2 linked regions of the Homo sapiens genome follow. The protein of the gene in region 2 purifies or fractionates together with the protein of the main gene of each other region. This does not show direct contact. Each region holds a gene or a part of one and is shown on either strand. Other genes may lie near its edges.

What was found.
Region 1: the proteins of TBC1D9B (region 2) and PACC1 purify together in Homo sapiens (co-immunoprecipitation; one large-scale study listed by IntAct). This does not show direct contact.

The regions. Positions count from the first base shown.
Region 1 is NC_000001.11:212,404,863-212,408,673, reverse strand, and holds part of PACC1 (proton-activated chloride channel), read left to right. Parts: intron 1-3,811. UniProt on the Homo sapiens protein: Chloride channel gated by pH that facilitates the entry of chloride ions into cells upon exposure to extracellular acidic pH. Involved in acidosis-induced cell death by mediating chloride influx and subsequent cell swelling.
Region 2 is NC_000005.10:179,890,853-179,894,663, forward strand, and holds part of TBC1D9B (TBC1 domain family member 9B), read right to left. Parts: intron 3,763-3,811; coding exon 3,534-3,762; intron 2,616-3,533; coding exon 2,357-2,615; intron 735-2,356; coding exon 527-734; intron 1-526. UniProt on the Homo sapiens protein: May act as a GTPase-activating protein for Rab family protein(s).

The sequences.
Region 1 (3,811 bases), on a different chromosome or scaffold from region 2:
CTGCATGGAAGGGACCGGGCACGGTGGCTCATGCCTGTAATGCCAGCACTTTGGGAGGCTGAGGCAGGTGGATCACCTGAGGTCAGGAGTTCAAGACCAGCCTGGCCAACATGGTGAAACCCTGTCTCTACTAAAAAATACAAAAATTAGCCAGGTGTGGTGGCACATGCCTGTAATCTCAGCTACTTGGGAGGCTGAGGCAGGAGAATCGCTTGAACCCAGGAGGCGGAGGTTACAGTGAGACGAGATCATGCCACTGCACTCTAGCCTGGGTGACAAGAGTGAGACTCTGCCTCAAAAAAAAAAATAAAATAAAGTAAAAAAAGACTGCCTGGAAGGAAGGAGGCTGGAAGGGCAGCTAACATTTCCTGACTGCTTCTCCTGTGCCAGGATCTGTCGTACCCCATTTGCCCCATTTAATTCTCACATCAACCCTGTGAAGTGGTTATCCCCCTTTTACAGATGAGGCCCCCAACCTCAGGGAGGTTGAGTAAAGCATGGGGAGGTCATATAGCTGGTAAACACAGACTGAGTCAAACTCTGCCCAACCCTAAACTCTCTCTACTACACCAGTGGTGTTTTCTTTTTTTTTTTTTTTTTGAGATGGAGTCTCACTCTGTCACCCAGGCTGGAGTGCAGTGGCACAGTCTCGGCTCATTGCAACCTCTGCCTCCCAGGTTCAAGTGATTCTCCTGCCTCAGCCTCCCAAGTAGCTGGGACTATAGGCGTGTGCCACCACACCCAGCTACTTTTTTATTTTTAGTAGAGATGGGGTTTCACCATGTTGGCCAGGCTGGTCTCAAACCCATGACCTCAGGTGATCCGCCCACTTCAGCCTCCCAAAGTGCTGGGATTACAGGCGTGGGCCACCGCACCTGGCCTACATCAGTGGTTTATAAAAACTATTTTAAGTGGTGGTAATCCCAACACTTTGGGAGGCCAAGATGGGAGGATCTCTTGAGGCCAGGAGTTTGAGACCAGCCTTAGCAATAAAATGAGATCCTGCCTCTACCAAACAGACAAAAACCAAAAACACTCACACAAAACAATAAGCATTCTTTTATTAAAGCCCAATATGTAAAAGATAGTAGCACGGCTAATCCTCCCTCTGACATGAGGCATTGCCTCTAAAGCCCTAAGGCTCCCGGGAGAACAACTTGAAAGACCTGTATATTAGTTTTCTATTGTTTCTATAACAAATTACCAAAAACTTAGTGGCCTAAAAAAACACAAATTTATTATCTTATAGTTCTGGAGGTCAGGAGTCCAAAATGGATCTCACTGGGCTAAAATTAAGCTGTCAGCAGGCCTGAATTCCTTTCTAGGGGCTTGAGGAGAGAACTTGGTCTTTGCCTTTTCTAGCTTCTGGAGGCCTCCTGCATTCCTTGGCTTGTGGCCCCTTCCTGCAGCTTCAAAACCAGCAGTGGCTCGTCGAGTCTTTCTCACATGACATCACTCTGATGCTGACTCTCCTGCCTCCCTTTTCTGTGTTTAAAGGGCCTTTGTGATCACATCGGGCCCACCCAGGTAACCCAGGATAATCTCCCTGCTTTAAAGTCAGCTGATTAGCAACCTTAGTCCCATTTGCTGCCCTAATTCCCCTTTTCCATGCAACTTGACATATTCACAGGTTCTAAGGATTAACACTTGGACATCTTTGGGAGCCTTTATTCTGCCTACCACACCTTGCACTACCCTCTTGCCCCCAACCAGAAGTGCATAGATGGAGGCAGGAGAAAGAAGAGGAGGGAGGCCAGACTTGGAAAGATGAGGCTTGTCTTTGTGTTTCCTTTCATAGAGAAGTGCCCAGGTAAATCAGGAGGTGGCCCTAATGTCCTTGGACCTTAGCAGCCTCTCTTTTGCCTCAGATTCCTGGGGCTGCAAAGCCTGGGGTCAATCAGAATAGGAAGCCAGGCCTCAGGCAGAGCAAATTTTGGGTAGTTCCATCAACTGGCAAGAGCATTCCCACTTGCTTTGGGGTAGCCTTCCCAGTTGCTTTGGGGGAACCAGATGAGCTGGGCTCATCTCCTTTCTAAATCACAGAAGATTCAGATCTCAGGAGTCCATTTGGCTGGGTCAGTAGTGAGTTGGCTCAAATTTGATGGACTGATACACAACTCTCAGAGCTCATTTCTTGCCTCTGACTCTTCTTTTTTTTTTGAGACAGTCTCCCTGTGTCAACTAGGCTGCAGTGCAGTGGCACGATCTTGGCTCACTGCAACCACCACCTCCTGAGTTCAAGCAGTCCTCATGCCTCAGCCTCTTGAGTAGCTGGATTATAGGCACTTGCAATCATTCCTGGCTAATTTTTGTATTTTTAGTAGAGACGAGGTTTTGCCATGTTGGCCAGGCTGGTCTTGAACTCCTAACCTCAAGTGATCCACCTGCCTCAGCTTCCCAAAGTGCTGGGATTACAGGCGTGAGCCACCATGCTTGGCCCCTTTGAGTCTTCTAATAATAATAATAAAAATAATGGTAATGGTGATAGTGGTTGCCATTTTGGGGGTGCTTTCATGTACTAGGCCTGTGTAGGGCTTTAGGGCTTTTTTTTTTTTTTTTTTTTTTTTTGTGGGGTGGGACCTTGCTTTGTGGACTGGGCTACAGTACAGTGGTGTGATCATGGCTCATTTCAGCCTCCCGAGTAGTTGAGACTACAGACATGCGCCACCATACCTGGCTAATTTTTAAATTATTTTTAGAGACAAGGTCATGCAGTGTTGCCCAGGCTGGTCTCAAACTCCTGGGCTCCAGTGATCCTCCTGCCTTGACCTCCCAAAGTGCTGGAATCACAGGTGCAAGCCATTGCTCTGAGCCTATAGGGCTTTTTATATACACTTTATCCTGTAATCTTCACAGCCACTCTGTGAGGTGAACGGTTAGTCCTAGTTTATAGATGAGGAACCCAAGGCACAGACGTTAAGGAATATGCTCAGAGCTCATGAGTGGCAGGGCTCAAATCCATACCCAGAGCTGTCTCGCAAGGTGTTCTGACTCTGGCTCAGTTGTTCCTAGATGAGAGCTTTCCTGCTCCAAATTCTCCCCTCCCTGTAGCAGATCAATTAAGGACTGCTTCACTTGTTATGCCAAGTGCTGACACCACAAAGAGGGTGAGTAAGTTCCTCCAGGAACTCAGGCATATAGAGACAGAAGGCCGGTTACCCAAGGAAGAACTTGTCCCTCCTTCTGAGCCTTCCTTGACTTCCCTGATGAGGTCCCTTTCTCCCTGTGATATGCTTTCCTTTGTAACAGTTAACACAGTTGATAGGTCACATTTATTGAGTTTAATTATTCAGTTAATTGTTATCCATCCCTTGGCACTGCCCTACAAGTTCTGTGAGGCACACAGATTTTGTCTTCTCCTCCTTTACTGTAACTCCAGTGCCTAGTGTGGAGTGTAGTATGGAAGTATGACTCCATAGAAGTATGAGTACTGTAGGTACTCAGTACCTATTTGTCCTCTGGGGGAGAGCAGTGGAGATTTAGAGCAAGAGAGCCTCTCATCTAGGAGCAACTGAGCTAACTGGAATGAATGAATGAGGGCCAAAGAAATGGTAGAGTCAGGTGCTTCAAAATTAATGAAGGGGCCTGGCGTGGTGGCTCACACCTGAAGGGGCTCACACTGTGGCTCATCCCAGCACTTTGGGAGGCCAAAGCGAGCAGATCATCTGAGGTCAGGAGTTCGAGACCAGCCTGGCCAGCGTGGTGAAACCCCATCTCTACTAAAAATACCAAAAAAACTAGCCGGGGCATGGTGGCAGATGCCTGTAATCCCAGCTACTCAGGAGGCTGAAGCAGGAGAATCACTTGAAGC
Region 2 (3,811 bases):
AAGGAGCAAGTGAGAGCCAATGCAGCCTCACAGGGGAGAGCCGACGCCGCCCCACAGGGGAGAGCCGACCTCTGATGGCCTGCTGGAGCCGAGCCACGCCAAGGTGGTATGTCCAGAGAGGACTGGTGAGGTGGCCTCTGAGAGTGACATATGGGACCGGTGCAGGAACACGGTCCTCTAAGCGCAGCCACGGAGCAGCACTTTGCCCTGCAGGGCCCAGAAGGCAGGCCTGATGGAAACTCACGCGTGGGAGACCCTGTCTCCACTAGGCAAGTGACCTGAGAGGGCAAGCAGTGTGCCCCCACCATGTTACCTGCCTCCCCAACAGGGCAGGTGCCTGTGGAGGGGCTCACTTGTCCTACACCCTCCACCTGTCCCATCACTGAGTGACATGTGACTGCCTGGGCTAGGGCATCCTCCCAGGTACCCCCCAGTGAGACAGGGCAGAGCAGGACAGGCTGGTCCCTGAGCCCACTGACACCTCGGGGCTGGAAAGGCCTTGGCCTCTCAACTAGGGGATGCTGACCTCCCTCAGGGGTATGATGAGGTGGCAAGCGTCCTCCTCCTTGCTGGCGAAGCAGATGTAGTTGTTGGAGATGAACATCTGGCCAGGGATGTGCAGCTTGTTGAACGGCGTCCACAGGGTGCAGCTTGTGTGGCCGTCTAGCCGCTCATCCCTGGGCAGCCGGAACGTGGCTCGGTAGCACTCATTCTTGGCTCGGGCGTCCAGGTCTCTGGGGAAACAAGGTAGGAGGACAGGAGGAAAGGGGACAAGGTCAGGACCAGCACACTCTCAAGGAAGCCTTGGGGCCTCCCCAGGCCTGTTTCCACATCAGATTCAGGATCCCTGGGGTGGTCCCTTGAGCAAGTCATGCTCAGGGACCTCAGAGTTCAATAAAAGATGCATGCTGAGTGAGCAGGCAGAAGGTGAGACAGTCACATAACCAGCGGAGAAGTGGCCAGCAAGCAATGTGTCCTGAGACTGCTTTGAAAAGGACACACCTAGATGCTGGCCTGGGCAATGTGCAACCCATCCCTCGGTACTGATGGGCAAGCAGAGCCCAGAGCACCTGCCCTGGATCCCACTCAGATGGAGGGCCCCGGGCAGCTCTTCCACCCTGGGCAGGCCTAACCCCAGGTTTCACCTTGAAACCTAGGTGAGGAGCTCCCCACAGGGAGGTGTGGAGCTTAAACTAAAGCATGCGGCTGCTAACAGAAATGCACACCTGTGTATCTGATGGCTGTGACAGTGGCCTGGCCCAGGCCCTCACCCCTTTGGTGGCTCTGTCCACATAAACTCTCCCAGCCCCAAAGGGAGCCTCCTGCCTGCCCTGGGCCGCAGTGGCCTGACCAGGGCCTGACTGCATTCTCACCGGCAGTGCCAGGAGCAGTCATGTTCCATCTCTGCTCGTGTTCTTTCCAAAAGGTCCAACAAGCCAACCTGTCACTTGCATCCCAAGGACAACATGCTTGCACAATTTTCTGGTCCTGGAGGTGGACCCCAGAGTTTGGGCCTGGACCACAGTCTGTGGGTGCAATGCAGGAAATGGCCTGGCTGGAATGAGGTCGCTCAACACAAGGGTGTGAATCTGGCTGTGGTCAGGCTGGCTGTGGGACCCAGGGAACCTCAGAGATCTTGTCCAGCCTCTGGAGTTTCCCATAAGCTACAACCTAGGAACCCAAACGTTAAGTAGCCCGGGAGGGCTGGCTGCTATGATGTGTTCCTGCCTATCGGTCCCCTGGACAGGGCAGCAGGGAACTCAGACCCACACATGGCCCATCTCCTTGGCTGGCTTCAGACCCAGAGGTCTGCTTCCACGTCAAACTCAGGACCCCTGGGGGTCCCATGGCTGTGAGAGGCCTCTGGCCAAGGAGTCTCAGGGTATACAGGAGAGCTGTCAATCACGGTGGGACGGAGGCCGTGCACTTGAGCCCAGATTTACCAAAGCCTTTCTGGGGGTGTCAGAACACCCTGGCTGAGGTGGCTACATCCTGGCTCCACTGCTCACTAACCGAGGGACTTCAGGCAAGTTACTTAACCTCTCTGTGCCTCAGCTTCCTTGTCTGATACCTAGGGATGGTAAGAGCCCCTTCCCATCATAGGGCCAAGAGGAATAAAGTGTGAAGAGCTTCCTCCCCATTAGTGGTATCCTCAGGACATCACTGCTATCTCCTGCTGCCTCTCCACACGGGACTGCAATGATCTGTTTACCTGGCTTCCTTCCCAAGTGGGGAGCCCATGAGGGGTGAATGTGGACACCTTCTCCAGGTCTACACACTTGGACCAGGCAGGTCCCAGCCAAGGTCAGCGAACCTGGCTCACATGAGCCCACCCCAGCCCTGGAGGGCAACGCACCGCTTCAGGGCTGAGATGTTCCTGTGTGGCCGGATGGGCCTAGGCAGGGCCTTGTCCTCCAGGAAGCCCTCGCTGTCCAGCAGCTGCCGCATGGCCAGGTTGGCCAACTGCTCCATGAGCTTGAAGGTCTCGCCGATGTTGAGGAACATGGAGAAGAAGAGCTCCTGGTCGCGGGTGTCCACACGGATGCTCTCGGGGAAGAGCAGGGTGGCGTTCTTCTCCAGACGCGTTATGTCCACCCACTGCACCACGAGGCTCACTGTGCCCACAGAGATAGACACACCGCAAGTTAGGGCCTGGCAGGGCGAGGCTCCTGATGCCCATCTGTACCCCAGACCCATCCCAGGGAACTGCTCTCTGGGGGCAGCACTTCCTGTGTGCCCAGGCCTGTCTGGGCTGTGTCACGCCCTCCATGTGGAGGGACCAGGCCACTGAGGTGTCCACTGCCTTCCAGACCAACCACACACGGTGAGTGTCTCCCCCACCAGTGGCTGAAGGGGAAAGGAACGAACGTGCGGAGGTGAACCACCGAGACCCACCCAGCAGCTCCCCCAAGTGGGAGCGCACGGAGGTGTGAACAGTCACAGCACAGCGCGGCCAACACAGAACAGGACACAGCCCCTGCTGACGGGAGGTGACTGGCCACCTGGTCGTGACAGGTAAGCGGCAAGGGCAGGAGGGGGCACAGGGAGGCTGTGGGCTGAGGGAGGCAAGGAGGGAGGAGGGCTTGGTGGGCTTGGGGATGGCTAAGACCCTGGGGCTCTTTCTGGAGCTGCTGGGAAATCAGGCTCGCATCCTGTGGCCGGGATGTCTGTAGGGAGGAACCTGCAGCAGATGAGGGCTGTGGCACGCACCCAAGGCATTGCATGACATGGAATCACCAGGAATTTGGGACAGACGTGTGCCTGAATACGCCAGTTCAGCAGAAGAGGGCAGGGCAGGCACGCGGAGTCACCATGTAGAGAACCCTACTAGCGAGTGGGGGGCATGGTAAAAGTCGGCTGGGAGCAGGTGTACGCCTGGCCAAGGCCGGACAGTCCCATCTTGGGCCGCTAAGGTGGCATTTGGGTTTCAGGGAGACCCCTCTGGTGGCCATGTGGGGATGGAGTATCTGGGGGCCGAAGGCAGGGAGGGGCTGAGGGTGTGGGGGCTGGGGCACACTGAGGGGCGGGCTCACCTTCCTTCCCCAGCAGGAAGGAGTAGAAGCACAGGTGGTTGACCGTCAGGTACAGCCAGCCCTGCCGGGGCACGCGGCCCTTCCAGTAGCTGCAGGAGTAGTAATTCACCAGCTTCTCGCCCTCAGGCATCCCAAACTGCTTCCGCATCTTCAGCTCAGCCTCCTTGAACTTCCCGGGGTCCTCGTCTCCCTGGGGCTGCAGGTTCTTGTTCTCTTCTGCGATGATTCCCTGGAGGAAGGCAAGAGGACAAGGGCTTGCCCTGCACAGTCCCGGACAG